Regions from separate parts of the Homo sapiens genome. Here region 2 is linked to region 1. Evidence: fine-mapped expression QTL. A gene starts in region 1. The other region holds a variant in brackets. All regions are shown on one strand. Distances are from middle to middle. Region 1 holds the start of SYNPR (synaptoporin). Region 2 overlaps SYNPR (synaptoporin).

What was found. PIP is the estimated chance that this variant, and not a neighbour inherited with it, causes the effect.
Region 2: its variant is fine-mapped to the expression of SYNPR in cerebellar hemisphere (GTEx, PIP above 0.99). The same link has a PIP of 0.9 or more in cerebellum.

The regions. Positions count from the first base shown.
Region 1 is chr3:63,274,065-63,282,064 of GRCh38, forward strand. It overlaps SYNPR (synaptoporin), which reads left to right and starts at 4,244. Exons shown (of 6, transcript NM_001130003.2): 1 at 4,244-4,487; 2 at 4,613-4,678. The coding sequence starts at 4,470.
Region 2 is chr3:63,319,267-63,330,391 of GRCh38, forward strand. All of the region lies in intron 2 of SYNPR (synaptoporin), which reads left to right. Among named protein-coding and RNA genes, the nearest start is that of SYNPR, 47 kb to the left of the region's middle. The variant T/C (reference allele first, on the strand shown) is at 6,282.

The DNA.
Region 1 (8,000 bases):
GGTTAGCAGCATGAGCAGAGAGTTAAATATACAACATTTTGACAGACTTCCACTCATTTCCATTATTTTAGATTTCATAACATACGGGTAGTGTTTCCTCCTGTATTAAGTTGCTGCAGATAAAGTTTTAAATTAGTTTTTTGTCTTTGTCACAAAAGACATGGGAATATGAAACCCAGGTATATTTTCCTATGAGAACAAGATTTAATTAGCCTGAATAATGCAAGTTCTTCTATTGCAGCTTGGTAGTTTGGTTTGTATAGTTTGACTCAAGATTAACCCTCTTTGAGATTCAAAATGCTTGGTTTTGTTACTTGATTTTCATTTGCGAACAAGGTATATTTTCCTATGAGAACAAGATTTAATTTGCCTGAATAATGCAAGTTCTTCTATTGCAGATTGGTACTTTGGTTTGTATAGTTTGACTCAAGATTAACCCTCTTTGAGATTCAAAATGGTTGGTTTGTAACTTGATTCTCATTTGCTGATTTAGCAAATGTTGAGCTTTACTAAATTGGGCTGAATGTATTTCTTACTACAGTGTAAGCTTTGGGAAGACAGGAAACTTGGCAAGCTGTTTACAGTATCTAGAACAGTACCAGGGCACAATAGGCACTCAGCCCTTACTTGCTGAAGTTTCTCTACCTTGGCACCATTGACATTTTCCAGATAATTCTTTGTTTTGAGTAACTGTCCTCTGAATTGTAGGATATTGAGCAGCATCTCTTGCTTCTGCCCTCTGGAAGCCAGTAGTGTCATCTCCATCCCCTGCCCCCACCTCGTTGTGACAATCAAAATGTCTCCAAACATTGTTACATGTTTTCCAGTGGCGGGAAGGGCCCAAATCACCCTCTATTGAGAACCAGAGGACTGCAGTAAATAAATGGATTGCCTTGGCATATCAAAGGAAGTATTCATAGCTATGGGTCCCTGGCTCAAAACAAAAGAGAATTTGGAAATTATTTGATTTACATAATCAACACTGGCCACTAAAATGGATCATTTATGCCCCACCAAAGTTAACTTTATCCTTCATCTATCATGATAGATTCATCATAGTAAGAGGGAAATTATCTTTCATCATCTTGGGGCAAAAGATAATGGGTCACCCTTAACCACTGATAGTAATATTGTGGCAGTGTTTATATCATCTGTCCTATCTCCCCTAATCTAGTTCTTTAGGGAACCCAATGTTATTTCCAGGTCTGAATACAGAGGTTCTAACCCAAAGTCTACAAAATATTTAACATTGCAAATGTGATATGAAACTCTGGGTTATTTTGGTGATGCAGCTGTTGGAAGCTCATACATTTCTGGAATAGGAAAAGCATCCTCTGACAATGTGCAATTGTTGTCTAAGCTATTACACTGCCATTTGCCACAATTCTGACTTCCTTCACATGGTGTTTGGAGAACTGGAAAAAAATATGCCACCATATTAGTCAGAAGGAACACTGGGTGTGAAGAGAGCCCTGAGGGAATAGGCTCAGTAATCACACTTCCTCTGTGCCAAGTTTTCAATTCAAATAATCTGCAAGTAGGCAATATTTTAAATAAGTCTCTTTCCCTGTATAAAGAGATATAAATATGTAGATGACCTTAGGCATGTTACATAGCCATTCTAAGGCTGGATATACTATCTAGAAAAGGGGAAATTATTATGATACTTAAATGATGTATATAAAGCACTTAGCACAATGCCTGGCAGGTAGCAGGAACTAAACTGGTAATAGGTATTACAATAATAATTATCGTTATTAAGCATATGGAGGAGATGTCATACCCTGTAAGCTGGTTGACTACCATGCAAAGAGGATGAACACAAGGACCATGAGATCATACGAACCTAGGGTGAAATTTTGGTTCGGCTACTTTACTAGCTGTGTTATCAGTCGGCTTAGGTTATGTTGTGCTGCAGTAACAAAAGACCTAAATTTTTCAGTTGCTTACACCCCAAAATGCATTTTTTGTTTGCTCAGCTTCATGTCCATCAAGGTCTGGTTGCAGATCTGCCTATGTCATCCTTACACTGGGACCCAAGCTGTCAGAGTAACCTCTATATAGAAATTATATTCATCGTGGTAGAAGGAAATAAGTTGGCAAATCACTTGGTGGTTCTTAAAACTTCTGCCCAGAAATGCACACATTACCAATAAAATGCCCACATTTTACTGGTCAAAACAAGACACATGGCTACTGCTGGGTCCAAAAGGGCAAGGATATATAGATGTTGAGGTGCACTGTTGAGGGCAGCAGGACATTGCTACAATCTACCCTGCCTCTGATATGGACCTCTGAGTCTTCCCCTTTGCTTCTATAGAAGTGATATGTAACTAATACATGCTGAGGGCTTATGAAATGCAGACTGCCCTAGATGGGCTATCTGCAAAATCTCATTGGGTTCTCACAAAAAACAGTTAAGATAGGTATTTTGGCTCCATTTTACAGATTAAAACAAAGAAACAAACTGAGGTCTTGAAGAGGTTAAGTAACTTCCCCCATAAGATCATATACATACATGGTAGGGTACACACTAAGTAATTGATAGTGTTAGTTCCCCCCACCCCTCCCCCATAGTTGCATAATGGCTTATTTTTGAAACAACTGTTTCTAATTGTTTTAGGCTCTATCTGCATGTAGGAAGAGCAGTAGGAACAAAACTGGCTGACTGCAGATGGTGCAACCAGTCCACTGGAGTTCCTACTCTCTAAATTTCTAGTTTTTCTGCAGCAAAATTCATGAGCAGGGGGCATTTACACTAGAAGCTGCCTCCCCCTCCCAGACAGCAAATTACTGATTTCCGTATTTCTCATCTACTTCTACATATCAAATACCCACCCCCCCCACCAACACACACATACACACCCATGAACTCCAAACCTTTTTGGCAAATCTTTATAGTAAACAGATGGACTATCTGTGTTGCTGGGAGACCACTCATAAATGGAATCCAGTCCAAAGGGAGTGAGAAGGAAGAGGACATATCACTACTTGATGTAGTAGCTAAGAGCTCTCCTCTCCTTCTTCTTCTTCCTCCTCTTCCTTTTTTCCCCTTCTTCTTCTTTTGTTTTTCTGATTTTAAAAAAATCAATTCTGACTTCACTACCTGCTAGCTGGGCAACCTTGGGCAGGCCACTATCCTTCCATGGGCCTCAATTTCCTCATCTCTAAAATGGGAATAATATTATTATTAACTTATGGGGGTTTGTGAATATTGAATGAAGTAATGTTTGTAAAGCCCTTAGCACAGTTTTCAGCTCATAGAAAGAACTCACTTGTTTGGTTGTTGTTGTTTTTATTATATTCAGCAAGATTAGCCCACTAAGAGTAAACAACGTGAACCACCTTTCACTAAGTTTCAAGAAAACAGTCTAACTTTGGAGGAGGGACCCAGTGTTATATTTATGAGTTTGACAAGGGAGTTCATTTGGGGGTCAGATATCAGGCAAAAGATCTCAGTAGAAATAAAATGAGTTTGAAAGGTACCTAAATTTCATTCCCTGTTTAGCCTTTCATGAGATGTTTTACCTTGGCCATTTCATCCTTGCTAAATCTGTTTTCCACTGGCGCATGGTCCCACATTCAAGATTAATTTGTTTCCACCTCTTCTCTCCAGGCAGTTTCCTCTGTCCTGGTCCTCTCTCTGGCATCCACAGGCCAAGATGGATCCCCTGCCCTGTGCCCATGGCCCCTGTGCTCTGCTCTGCGCCACTGTCCAGACCACATTGCAAGTTATTTTTCCCCTTTTGCTTCCCCTGGGGGAAGTGACAATGCTTATCCTGTTTTTTTGATGTACCCCAGCACCTAAGCACTGCCTGCCCACAGGAAGGATGCTCCATAAAGGCTTGAAGGAATGAATGAAAGAGCCAACAAATAGTTATTTTTTTATTTTTATGTATTTATCATTATTATTATTTTGCTGTTTGGAAGTCATCAGAACTCACACAGATGTCTCAGGTAAAGTGTGGGTGTCTTCCTCCTACCTGGAAACCCCTTCTTCAGGTGGACAGCCGTCTTGCTGATGGTGCCAAGCCCGCTTTCCCAAACCAACAGACCCAAAGTTTCCCCGGAGCCAGAGGGCACCGGGCGCACGGCTGAGCCTGCACCAATGTCTGTGGGCCCTGCCTCGCCCACCTCCTCGCCCTCCCCTCTGGAGCGCGGCTGGCCAATGACAGCCTTCCCCTGGCTCCATGGGTTTCCCCCTCCCCTGTTGTATCTACCCTGCCCCAGCTCTTCCCTGCCCACCCCTCGCTGACTCGCTTCGCTTCCCCGACGCGCTGGGTTCCCGGAGCGCAGAGCCCAGCGTTAGCGGGTGGGCTCCCCGAGGCCCCCTGCCCTCGCCGGGCTGCTCCAGGGTGTCGCTCCTCTGGCTGCTCCCGAAGGGGCTTCTGGCCCTGAGGACGGTGGTGCCAAGCGAACTTCATTTTTAAAAAGAACTGGTGGATGAGAAGAGCGAGCGAGGGCGAGCTATGGACCCTGTGAGTCAGGTGAGACAGAACTGGGCAGGGCGGCTGGCTGGGAGCAGGGGGCGGGGGATGCCGCGGCTTGGGAGAGGCGCCCCCAGCCCCTTCCTCACGCTTTGCTTTCTCTCTCTCGCCTCATTCCCCCAAAGCTGGCCTCTGCGGGCACCTTCCGGGTGCTGAAGGAGCCCCTTGCCTTCCTGCGAGCCCTGGAATTGGTGAGTAGCAGTGTGTGTGCAGGGAGGGGCGCCAGGCAGCCAGCTATCAGGTGAGGAGAGGTCGGATGGGGTGCTCCCTGCTCAGTTCTGCTCCAAGCCGGAGATTCAACCCTCAAGCCGGGGATTTCAATCCTGCCCCCTCCTAAGATGCCGTTCCAAGGTGGTGAGGACAAAATCGAGGCACCCTGCTTGGAGGCGGGAGTGTGGACGCATTTTTGCAGGGGCTTAGACAAGTGTCGTCTCACCTCACCGCTTGCAGACGCGCAGGGGCTGTGGAAAGAAACCTCCCCCTTGGGAGATAGGGGAGGGGGGCGCATGGAAGGGCTGCCGCTGGGTTCTGGCCCCTCACCTGGACCTTCGTGGGGATGAGGGGATGGGTGGAGGGACCCATAGTTGAGCGGAGGAGCCGGGAAGACTTGGCCAAGCTCAGAAAGTTGGTCAGAACTGAGACAGCTCCTCTGCGGGACTGGGATGCTGGAAGCGCGTGTTCAACTGCTCCGCGGGAGCTTCAGGGAGGGAAAGATGCTGCGAAGCTATTACAGACTGTTATAAACGGCGGCGGGTAGAGAGCAGAACTCCTTCCTTCCCTACTATAGTTTCTTTTCTCTGGCCACTCCTCTAGGGCTTTTCTGATTATACCCAGAAGAGCCCACCAGCCTGTTTGCCATGGCTTTCTTCAGCGACTGGGCTTTAGGAAGTTGTATTCCACTTCCGTGAAACCACCCTGACGCTCTTATTGCAATTTGTCTATGGGCAGAGGAGTGAGGCACAGAAACGGTTACCCACAGGGCCACAGAGCCATGTCAGTGTTGTTGGCTGGATGATGGTTATTCAGAATGAAATCTGCAGGTCACACGTTTCGTCTTGCTAGGAACTCCAAAAGGCAAGCAAACCTATCTGAATAGAAAGTTCAAAGCCTGTCATGTAGCATTAATCAGAGTCCCTAACACTGACTAGCTGGGAAATTATGTAAGAGCCTGTTCTCTGTTCCCAGATCTTAGCTCCAAGGGCTTATATCTGGCAGTGGCTACATAACTGTGATGATTGTTTACACGGATGATCTACAAGATAATTACATTTACCTTGTTTGTAGACTTGAATGAAAATGTATGCGTATATCAATATTGCATACACCAGGACAGCTTTTGGAAGGCTTGAATTAGTGGTTCAGAGCTGGCTATTCTGAAACTGTTTCCCTTACAGTCAAGTTAAACAAGCAAGCAATCCTCACAGTTCTGGAAACTTTCAGTTTGCTTTCTCAGAATTCTGCCCGCATTCATTCATTCAGCCATTCAATAAATATTTCCTGTGAAGTAGTGGCCTTTAGGGAAGAAAATAATAGCTCCATTGTCAAGCTATTATCTCTCAAAACCAAGTTCAAAGAGCTGACATCATTTTCTGACATAATCTCTTATTGTCTCACACGCTCACCTATCTGAAATATTAGTTCGTGTACACACCAATACTGTGGCAACATGATTTTGTGCCATTGTTCCTCACACAGCCTCTACTGCTATATAAAAAGGTGTTTGTTATCTGGATGAACTTGTTCAAATTACAGGTTTCAGGCTACCAAATCAAAATATTGATAAGATGGGTGCCCATGAATCTGCATTTTAAATGAGCTCCCTGCGTAACTCTTATCCATGTTATAATTGGAGAACCACCACTCTAAGCTATACCAGATCCCTCCAAAACTCAAAAGCCCCTTTTACCTCAGTGCCCTTGCTATTTCTATTCACACTGTATGGAATGTCCTCACCTTCCAAGCCTAAAAAAAAAAAAAATGTTTGTTTTTTACCTCAACTAAATGTTACCTCCTCAATGAAGACTTTTCTCGTATTTATTCCTTCCTCTTTCCTCTATCCCAAGCTGAATGATTCACCTCGTTCTTTGAACTTCCACTAGATTTTTATTCATTCACTCATAAGAATTTATCACACTGCAAAATACCGTTTTATAGCTCCCCCCCTTGGGGGAGGGGTGTGTGTGTGTGTGTGTGTGCACAGGTGATGTGTGTGTGTGAGAGAAAGAGTGAAATAGAATAAAGGTTACTAAGTTACTACATTTAAATTATTTGCAGTCCTTCCCCTCTCTCTTCCAGGATTCTAAGGCTCGAAGGAGGAAGGGCTTTTTGCTTGTACCTCAGTAATTAGACTCTCATTTGTGGAAAAGAACATGAATAATGGACAAAGCAAATTTTAAAAGTTAGATAAGTTAGTTGGTTGACCTACATTTTAAAAGAGCTGAGCTAGAGACATGAGGAGAGAGTACTAGTTGCTGAAAAAGCTAGTAGTGAACAGAGGGAAAGAACATACATTTTGTGTGCACACAATGGCTTGAGGAGGCACTCTGAGGTATCTTTTTCTGTAGGAGATATTGACAATGACAGGAAATGTGATTTCTTATAGATGGTAGAACATTTCTTCTGTTTGTCTCTGTTTCCCTCACTGGTTCCTTTCATAGCGCTTGGTTAAACAGCAAGTAATCAGCAAAAATTGTAAACCGGTAATGACAGAGCACTTAAAATATCCCAGTTTATCCTGTTTCTGTGAAAGTTTTACAAAGCAATGGAGAGCAGCTTTAAACTTGACAGTGTCTTTAAGCTGCAATTTCCCCATGCTGTAGAAATAAACATGCATGTAAAGATATATGTATCTTAGTTTTGGGGGTTGCTATAACAAAACACCATAAACTGGATAGCTTATACACAACAGAAATTTATTTCTCATAGTTCTGAATACTGGAAAGTCTAAGATCAAGGTGCCATCAGATTCGTTGTTTAGTGAGGGCCTACTTTCTGGTTCACAGATGGAGCCTTCTTGCTGTGTCTTCTCATAGCAGAAGGGAAGAACTCTGATCTCGTCTGTCCCTTATAAGAACACTAATCCCATTCACAAGGGCTCCACATTTATGAGCTAATCACCTCCCAAAGGCCCCACCCCCTAAGACCATCACTTTGGGAACTATATTTCAACATGTGAACTTGGGGGGAGGCATAAACATTCAGATAATAGCAATATTCTCAAGAATATTTATTGCAACATCATCTGTAGTGAAAAGAACTGGAAATAACTAGTAAGTCCATTATAAGAAAATAATTAAAGTATGATTCATCATGTTATGAAATATTATATTGCCATCAAAAAGAATGAATTAGCCAGGGATGGTGGCTCATGCCTATAATCTCAGCACTTTGGGAGGCTGAGATGGGAGGATTGCTTGAGCCCAGGAGTTCAAGACCAGCCTAGCCAACATAGGGAAGCTGTGCAATTCTGGAACATATTAATTAAAATATGGCTTAACATATAGTGAATTTCTA
Region 2 (11,125 bases), 47 kb after region 1:
TGTTCCATTGGTCTATGTGTCTGTTTTTATGACAATATCAGACTATTTTGGTTATTATAGCTTTGTATTATAATTTGAAGTCAGGTAATGTGATGTCTCTAGCTTTGTTTTTTTGCTTAGGATTGCTTTGGCTATTCTGTGTCTTCAGTAAAGTTGCAGGACACAAAATCAACTTACAAAAGTCATTAGGATTTCTACATGCTAACAGCAAACAATCTGAAAAAGAAACCAAGAAAGTAATCCCATTCACAATAGCAACTAATATTAATAAGATAAACTACCTAGGAATAAACTTAACTCACAAAGTTAAAGATATCTACAATGAAAACTGTAAGACATTGATGAAAGAAATTGAAGAGGACACATAAGAAAATGGAAAAATAGTCCATGTTCATGCATTGAAAAAAAAATTGTTAAAATGCCCATACTGCCTAAAACAATCTACAGAGTCAATGCAATTCCTATCAAAATACCAATGACATTCCTCACAGAGACAGGAAAAATAATCCTAAAATTTAAAAAGAAATTGTCTAAAAGATTATTTTTACCAATTAGAAAGTACTATATCATGTTGTTGTATTGTTCTTTATTTAATCAGTCTCTAATTATGAAGAATGGAGGTTGCTTTTTCTTTTGCTGTCTTATAAATGAGGCTATAGTGAACATATTTAGATATGTATCTATTTTCTTATTCATTTATTGAGACAGGGTCTTGCCCTGTCACCCGGGCTGCAGTGAAATGGTATAATCATGGTTCACTGCGGCCTCAAACTCCTGAGCTCAAGCAGTTCTCCTGCCTCAGCCTCCAGAGTAGGTGGGACTATAGATGTGCAGCACCATACCTGGCTAATTTTTTCTGTTTTTAGTAAAGACAGGGTTTCACTCTATTGTCCAGGATGGTCTAGAACTCCTGGGCTCAAGTGATCCTCCTGCCTTGGCATCCCCAAGTGCTAGGATTATAGGTATGAGCCACCATGCCTGGCCTACATTTATTTTCACTATTTCCTGATTATAATTTCTTAAAATGAAGTTGATGCATCAATGGGAAGTCAGCATAACGAGGCTTAGTCCTTTAAAAAGGTAAAATAGAAAGAACAGAATCATTTTATGGCCACCATATCTTTTGAAAACATTCCTATTCCTTCTGGTAGATACTTGCAGAACAAGCTGAAGAAAGCTATATTCAGTTTTTTAGTGGAACATTGTAAAGCCACACCTTGTAAAAAATTAAAAAGCCTGATATTGAGATCCAAGTACTTCTTCTGCAGTGTGCAACTAGACCAGGAAGGCAGGGACCAGTTCTAGTTCCCCCACTTATGTCCACAGAAATTAGAAAATTACCTGACATATAGCAATAAGTTTGAAAATATTTAATGAATGATTGTGTGAATGAATAAACTTTTATTAACTCATTGGGGTAATAGAACTCTCAGACCCTAACAGTTCGTTTGTACATTTCAGAAACTGTGATTCCTAATTTGTTTAGTGACTTTATTCATGGAAACGGCACCACTTTGAGGGGCAGATACAAATTTTAATCTTAGTTTTGTGATTTACTATGTGGCCTTCATGTTCTGAGTTATCTGTGAAATGAAGTTACACTACTCAGTTTTTCAGAAACACTGCCATCTCAAATAAATTATCATCGAAAACTTGTTCTCTTTCCTCTGCCTTTGATTATGTCAATCTATTAATTTTTGAAAGCCAGAAGCCTTAACAGTGCTAGAAAATATGTATTCCAGAAAAATCAAGGACAACAAGGAGCATTCATTTGAATAAGCATGCTAGACATGGATGTCATTCTTAACCTAGGGCAGCCTAAGTATTTAGACTACAATTTTAGTTTATACCCCCAAGATATTTCTTTCAAATAAAGGGAGGACCTTACGTACTTTTAAACTTAGTTTTAGAAAATATCAATATTTTATTGTAGCATTTTCATTTTGCCAAAATATGACTTCAAGGGCCTTAGTCCATTTCTGACCTTTAACTACAATAGCACTTTTTATTTATCATCTTAGTATAAGAGTAAACATTTTTTATAGTAGAACATGTGGATACTGGAGAAAAGTCCAAAGAAGAAAGTATGTTTTATTCTCTCTCTATTCTTGCTCTGTTGAGAATTGTGAGGGTCAAATATTCCCATAAAAACTGATCTCTATTTCTGGAATAGAATAATGTGATTACTGTTATTATGCGGGTTATGAAAGTCAAGTTATATGTGGGCACAGAAGAAAGAGCAATTAATTTTAAGCCCCTGAATACAGAATACCATGTGTGTCAATATCCCCTGTAAATTGGCCAGTTCCTTAAAAATGGAGTCTGTACTTTATTCTCTCTATAGTCTGAATACCCAATTCATTGCTTAGTACATAGCAGGTGCTTATTATTCAATATCACATAGAGACACAGATAATGCTCTCTGTTCCTCCTTTAGGGAGTAAAGTCTGAAATTATAACCTCATGTCTTTGCACAGAAGTTCTCTGTGTGTTTACAAACACCTCTCCACATGAGTAGCCAATATAAACACAAATAAAATTCCCCTTGAACAAAATCAGTTCAGGGCCTCTTTGCACCGTACATTATAAAGCTCCCAATGGGCCTTCTGAGGTTTCCCTTGAAGAGGTCAACTAAAAAGCAGCCATGTCAGTCTTGCTGGCAGGAAATTAGCAGTTCTCAGCTCTTACAAGTTTGAAATTGTAACTGTTCCTCTTGGGTGTTTACCACTCTTCTGTCACCAAGGGAGTCCACTGTTGTTACCAGCCCAATTAGGTCTATTGCAACAGTAAGTGAGGAGAAACAGCCTCTTGAAATGTCCCTGCTTGGCCAGAATGTTAGGAAAAGCTTCCTGATGGAGGAATAGGATGACACCCAACACTGATGGAGGGTGTGCAGCAATGTTCTGCATTAGTGCCTACAGGAATATAGAGTTTTCATTTGCAACTTTTGTGATGAGCATACAGTTTGTAAAGCACAATGTAGATACTGGAGAAATAATGCATATAAACAGAGGAGGAAGACATACACATTTCAGTGCCACATGTGGACTAGGTACTGTGCTAGGCACTTTACTTTCTCAAACTTATTAATCTCCCATAGATGTTCATGGAGTGGTGTTATTTCCACTTTACAGATCAGGAAACAAAGGCACAAAGGTGAATGGCTCTCCTGAAGTCACATAGTTTAGTGTGAGTAAGTCAGGGCTTAAATCCAGGTTGGCCTGCTACCAAAAATGTATACGCTTGACCACTAGCCTATACTGCCTTCACAAATGTAAATTAATTAAAAGTATTTCTGATTATATGGAGGCTTTTATGTAAAGGTCTCAGGTCTTTAATGCTCACAATGATTCTGTGACTTAGGTGGTCCTGTCCCCATTCTACAAACAAAAAACTAAAGCACAAAGACACAAAGTCACTTGTTCACAATCATTCGACCTTCCAGTTTTGGAGCTTAGGTCTGTGTGGGGCCAAAGACATTCAGTCCTCTGCCTTTGAGAACCTCATCATTGAGGCAAATGTAAACATATACAAAGGAATTTGTAAGTTCTTATGTAAGACCCACTCACTCATTGAGAGTAAAATTTTATGGAAGAGACTACAAAATCAAGAATGCAGCAGCCTCTAAGGGCTCTCTGTGCTATAGGGCATTTCTCCTGCTTAGACATTTTCTTAAGGGACAGGGAGAGGCTTTTTATTGAGGGTTGCCCAGTGAGAGCTTCTTCCAGTAGGCACAGCCATGATAAGAGTAGAAGATAAGACTTTAAGCTCCCAAGAGGCCTCTTTTTCAAGATTCAGAAAAGGCACAAAGCAGGACTAGTTTAAGCACATCAGTAAAATTGAAAATAGCAGGGCTCAAGCTGCAGAGTGACTGTGGAGTTTGCTGGGGAAGAGCTTTTGATGTTTGTTTCTTGCCCAACTGAGCGCTTTTGAGTCAACAATCCTTTCTCATAAGGGCATAATACTCAAAACTGGCCCCAGAGGAAATAAGAAAGAGCCAAAGGTAATGCTATGGACTGATCCACTTTCCAATGGAAAGCCAACCTTCTTTCTTTCCACTTCACAGCTTTAATTCCTAAATTTCTGGGCCTTATGGCAAAAAGGGAGAGGGAAAACTGGATGAAATTTATTCAATTCTACAGGCATTTATTGAGTTTCTACTATGGAGTTAATATGAAGATTAAATCCTTGAACTTCATTACTTAGTTGATAAGATAAAACATACACAGGCCAGAAAATCTCAGGTGTGTTGGAAAGTACTTCTTTATACTCCCCAAATAATTTTTTTTTGGCATTGTTTTTTGCTGAGACATGATGGAAGACTTTTGGAGAAGGAAACACTTGAGCATTTGATCAGAGTTCAAAGACTGTAGGACCTGGAGAATTACAAATAAAAGAGTAAGGTTTATAGGGTGGTTCTAGAATAGACAAAGAAAAGAAAAACAAAAGCAAAAATGCAAATAAAATTTAAAATGTACATTCAAAGAGAGTATATTAAAATAAGGTGATAATAGGACAGGAAATTATATTTACTTTTCCTTAGCACTTTGTTCCAAGAATTGTTGTTTTTCACATGCATTCTCTCATTTAATACTCACAACATTCCCATGAGGCAGTTATTATTATTTCCATTTTACTGAGAAGGACAGTGAAGCCCAGCATGATGAATAACTTGCCCAACTTGCACAATAAGTAGCAGAGTCAGCATTTAAACTCAGTCTTATTACAAAGTCCTAATGTTTAGCCACCTATAGTATACTGCTTCAATAAGCATGGCAGCTGGAATATTGGCCAATAATGAAAAATGATGCTGAAAATTTAATTGCAATTATTGTAACTGTCACTTGTGTCTAATGAGTATTTTCAGTGCAAAGGTACTAGGCAAATTATTTTTATTTAACTCAATCCCTACAACAGTTGTGTAAGTATTATTAATCTCATTTTAAGATGAGTGAACTGAAAGAGTGGCCACCTTGATGAAAAGATATTAAGAAAGCAGAGAACCTGAGCTTTGAACTAGTATCAGTGACCTCAACCTGAACTCTTAACCATTACAATGTATGGCTTCTCAAGACTGGGATCAGACAATAAAGAGCCTTGAAGGCTAAGCCAGGAAATTTGCATTTATCCTGTAGCCAACGGGGAAACACTGAAAGTTTGTGAGCTGGGAGGTGACATGGCTTGATTTGGGCTTTTGGAGGATTAATCTGGAATCAGCATAAGATAGATTATAGAATGGAAAATCAGAACAGAGGGACCAATTATGGGACTACTGCACCAGTCCATGTAAGACGACTTATCCAGTGAGATGTGTGGTCCAGGTGAGTGGTCTTGAAAGCCCAATATAGACTACTAAGAGGAGAGAAAGGAAATATATAGTATTGGGTTTATAAATTACAAGAGTCCTCTTTGGTGCTTTGAAATCTGGATCTCCTACTAGAAAGGGAAGCTGCCTGCAGTGGAATCTGCTCACCAGGCAGCAAGTTGAGCTAGCTATTTAGTATGGAGAGGACCTGGAGCTGTGATTACCAGACACTGGGTTGCAGCTGCAGCCACCCAGAATTAGCCTGGCCAGATGGTGACGGGTAACTGACTGTTCTACACGGACCTCAGGAGAGAGCACAACAAATACCACAAGCAAGAGGCACATGTTTTCCTATGAACATATCAGAAAATTTTCTTTGAGAGTTTCTGATTCTCTCAAGGCATTTTTCCCTCATAATGCCTCAGTTACACTAACTCAGGTTGAGAATGGTGAAGAATGCTTTATGAAAATCAGAGTTGTTTTTTAATGAGGCCATCTGGTGAGCCTTCTGCATTTATATCCTCTTCTCCCAACAGGTTAGAAGCTGAAAAATTCTCTGCTAGTATAGTATTAGTAGAAATTATTTATAGTATGGCAGAACAGCCACTGTAATTACAACTTAATTCTTAGGTGACAAGAGACAGAACGTTAATTAGATCTTGCAGATAATAGTAATGACCATTCACATGTACCAAGCATTTGCTCACATGTAATAGGTATGAATTCTTAGCATCACTCACTTGGGGTACACAAGAAACATAATTTTCATTAGTTTCTTTAATAAAATAATTTGAACCTACAACCTACCTAGTGGTCAGAACATCATCTACACACTCTCAGGAAAGGTCCGATGCAGCATGTGTTAGTCACTCAGGTACAAAATGTAATCATATTCACCTTCTCCAATTTATTCCCCCTTTCTACCCAGGAAAGATCCTAAGCCCAGGATCTTACTGAGGTGCCAACCTGGTGACAG[T/C]AGGGAGTGGCTAGCTGGTTCTCCATCTGGACCTGGCAGGGCCCCTGCTGGCCTCCTACACTCAGTGTAAATTCATTTAGTCAGATTTCAACACACTCCAAATGGAGACTGAGCAAATTCCCAGTTTGGATTTGTCCCCATTTGACTCCTGGCTTAGGTAACCTTGGAAAGTAATGTCTGTCCTCCCATCATTCTCGGTGGAAACTGTCCATCCACACAGCTGACATCTGACACAGAGCTCCTTGTCCCCACAACTGGACCCTGTGCAAGCCCATGCATCTTTCCTTCTCAACTAGCTTTCACTTCCTGCTGAAGATAGGGAAGCTTTGGGTACCTCATCTCCACAACACTCTGGGGCTCTAGGAGACGTGGGCTATAAAAGTGGATTCATTCTGTCTCCACATCCCTGCATGTCCAAGATAGAACCAGAAGATGAGAAATTGTCATTTTTATTCATTGGTCCATTTCTGAAGAACCCCAGTCCCAGAGCAAATGGTGACCCCATGTTTCTCTGCTTGAATGAGGATGAGGTGGGAGAATAAAAGAAGAAATTGGTTGACAATTCAAGTTTGCCATACCCACACACATGATCTTATTTGATCTTCACAGCACCTCTTGGTAGCAGGAATGATGACTTTATTGATGAGAAAAATGAGGCTTAGAAAAGTTAAGGGACATGTTAAAGATCCCATTGAAGTCAATGGCAGTGTAGGAGTGTGGACATATCTGCCTGATTGTGGAGGATGAGCTCTTAACCAACACCCAACAGACAGCAGAGGCTGAAGCTGGCCACAGGACCTCACTTAGTATTCATTTCTCAGGTTATATATAAGGGATTGTGTGTGAATCAAAATACCTTACAATAAGTCTACTTTATTCTTCCATCACCAGCTGTTAGGGACAATAATGAAGCCATGTCTGCATTGGGAAGGTCTCCTTCGTAACAAATAGGATTATACTGAGATTGCAATGGGCATCACCATTCCTTATATATAAAAAGGAACTCCAGAGGGCCACTGGTTGGAATCATACTTTGTTCATTCCAGATCACTGAGTGTCCAGTCTTATCTAGAAGCCCAGAAGCCAGATGCTGGTCCTTGGTCTTCTATCTTCTCATAGTGATGGCCTGAAATCAGTGTCTTCTGCATTATTTATCAGTTTCTCTCTCTGTTAAATAGCAGCACCAAGAAAGGGAGTTGTGATTGCTGGTAACTTTGAAATCTTCAAAAGAAAGCCAAGTTCCTGGTAAGAATCAGACTTAGTAACTCATGGAAGTAATTGAAGGGTTGTGCTTGTACTCTTTCTAATTAAGTTTACATTGGGCAAATTTTAAGAAGTGTAATTTGGAAATGTTCTTAATTTCAATGGCCATCAGATTCATTTCCATGTTCCTAAATTTTACCAAAGCCAATAATAATACTTTCTCAATCCATTAAAAGACTACTTTCCTCATAGAAAAAAAAAAATGAACCACTGACACTTTACTTTTAGATTTCCTGTTTCATTTTGTTAGTGACTAGATATATATTAATTACTAACTATGTAAAAGTTGCAATCATTAGTGCAAATTGGGAGGGGAAATAGTTATTGGCAATGAAGGAAGTGTAAAGTAGAATGGAGATAAATATATACATTATAAAAGAAAATGTGATCCCACCAAAATAACCCAAATGAAAAGGACAATACCAAGTGACAGCAAGGATATAGAACAACTAGAACTTTTTTACACTGTTGGTAGGAGTGTAAATTGATATAACTTTGGATAACCTCAGCAGTACCTACTAAAGTGGGTATATGTATATGTTGAAATGAAATGTACATATATGTTATCATGTATATGTGGTACATGTAATACCTATTTATGTATTGTGTATGTGTGTTTATATCTAGCTATATGTATTATAAATGTATTATGTCCAAACAATTCCATTCTTAGGTATGTTTCCCAAAAGACACAAATAAGTGTGTTCATAACAGAATTTATAAAGCCACAAATGCTTATCAGTAGCATGATGAACAAATACATTTTGGTATATTTATGCATTTGACTTACAGTGATGAGAATGGACAAACTATGAGTTTACACAACATGAATGAATTTCACCCAAAAAAACTGAGCAAAAGAAACTAGATACAAAAGACAGTACAATATATAATTCAATTTGTGTTCAAAAATATTTTTAAAAAACACATTGTGGTATTAGAAGTTAGGACAGTAGCTAACTTTTGGTGGTTAGAGGTTAAGGAAGGGGCTTCTGGGGTTCCAATAATATATTATTTCTTGATCTAGGGATTGAGTAATAGGTGTGTTCACCCTCTGAAAATTCATTGAGCTGTTTTACACTTTTCTGCATGTATGTAATATATCAAGAAATTCACCTTAAAAAAGGCAATGTGTGAAAAGGATCAGGAGAGGCACAGATGGAAAAAGCAGGACAAAGTAAATATTGTTAGCAAATTAATTGGGCATAAATTGCAAAATATTATTTAAATGAGGAATGCCACATATGCTGAATTTAAAATACATTTTAGTGTCCCCATGATTAGGTTTTAACATGACTTTTAAGAAATTCTACAAATCTCACATCTACCACAAGACCAGTTATATAATTCAAGATGCTCAGTACTAAGCCATTAAAAAAAATTCAACACACTCTCAGAAAAACTGTGATATTCACAAAATGAGAGTGCCTTCTCAGGTTTCCCTTTATCCTCAGGTTGCAAAAGCTCAGAGCCTCATCTCCCTTTCTGGGAATGTCCAGAATCTTGTATTCAGGCTGCACATTTCCCCACAATTAGGTGACCTGTTTAGCATTGCTAGCCTGAGTCAGTCCATTTCATATCAAATGAGACTGGTCTATATTTAAAAGAAGGAATTCATAATGTACCAGTGTGATCTAGGAGTTTAATCACTGGGTTGAGTGCTCCAGGCCCCAGTTCCCCTAACATGCCTGTCTCCCTGGCTTTGACTCACAATCATGTGTTTTGTAAATGCACAAGGCAATGAACATAAAAGCAAAATTGCTGGTGACTAAGAATAGTAGCCAGCAGCCCTGGGAAGAATGCAGTGCTCTGGGGCTTAGCAGGAGAGCTGTGGATGCCTGGACACTGTGGACCTGAAAAATAAACATCCAATTGGAGAGTTGATGTGACCTCAGAGGAACCTGGGGGCCACAGCTCTGAATTCCCCAGAGCTGGTACTTGAATCTACTATGGCTAAATAAACTTGCCACATTTATTGGTGGCTTCTGTTTAAACACGAGTATTACAGTGGTGGCTTTATTTTCTTCTACCTTTTATTGATTATAATGTCCATGAGAGGTCAGGACCTGTTTTCTCAAATTGACCGCCACATCTCCAGCAGTTATTGAAAAAGCTGTACACTAGTCATCGCACAATATGTTTATTTGAATTATTTGAATACAATCTATAAGTCAAATCTAGCCTGAGAGTTATCTCAGCTATCACAGTTCTAAAAATAGGAGCAGTCTCCTAGTTCTTAGGTGGTATAAAAGTAATAACTATTATCAACGAGCCAAGAAAAACACACTTTCTCTCCACGTAAACAAATGAAAGAATTTGACTATTCAGCAAACTGCCTCTCAAGTGACAACATGGCATTGTTTAAATATTAAAAATAATATTTATGTTTAATACATTATTTTATTATGAGAGTTTATTATGTATCAGTCACAAAGCTGGTCACTTAACCTACATTATAGTTTAATTATCACAGCAATTTAATGGGGTAGCTACTCTTCTTAGCCCTATTTTACGGGTGGGAAAACTGAGACACAGAGAGGTAACTACCCCAAAGTGGCACAGCTGTTTAGTGGTTGAGCCAGGATTTGAACCCGGAATCTAAATCTAGTCCTTTAACCAACCTGCAATGCAAACCCTCACCCAAGACATCACAACACAGCAATTAAAATTGGAGAAAATGGAATGAGTTTGTTCCTAATCCAGTTAATTTCCCTGAATTAGAGAAAATCTCAAAATGTAATGTAATACATTTCTTGAGGAGAGGACTATGCTCTCTGATGACTAGTAATGTTGGCCATACGTCTTAAGACTATTTTTACACCTGCATCCTGAGGCAATTGAAAGAGTCCCCTTCAACTCACGAATGTGTCTCTGGGTAATAAATCATATGGCTACCCTATGAACACATTTGCCTTTTCCAGAAATGTCAAAACTTTCTCAAGTAAAGCTAGAATAGAGACTAATTCGAGGATGAGATCAATTTTTTCATCTAACCCAGGACTCAAGACTAGAAATTCGCTGTCCAGGTACCTCTGGGTTTTACCCACAAAGGGGTCCTTTGCTTGGCCTAGCAGCTGCCTCTCTTATCTGCCCCTTATTAAAGGAGGAAAGTAAATATCACAGCACAGTGTTCTGATATCAGGTTGTGTACAGGAGAGCATGTAACCCCTTGTTCCCAGGGTCTGGACATCCCTGCAGGTATTTTAGCATCAACTCGGGCTGGCTGGGCTGAGAGCAACTTGTTTTCTGGCTTATGTAGGCTCACCTGTGCCTGGTGTCAAGAAGCTCAGTGACTCTTTCTGGACTCAGAAGTGCCTCTCAGCCCTCAGGAGCCTTTTCTCCAGCAAATGTACCCTATGGAAAAGTAGTCCTTGATCCAATCAGTTATTTGTTGACTGGACTGGGTCAGTTTCCTCTAGGTTCTACTGGTGCATTCTTCTGGAATACATGACTTCAAGGACAGACCTCTACATGTGAGTTTTCTAATTGTAAGTGTCAAAAGCTTTACTCAAACTTGCTTAAGGAAAATAACACTACCACCAAGAGAACTTTAAAATGTATGTTCAAATTCCTACTCAATC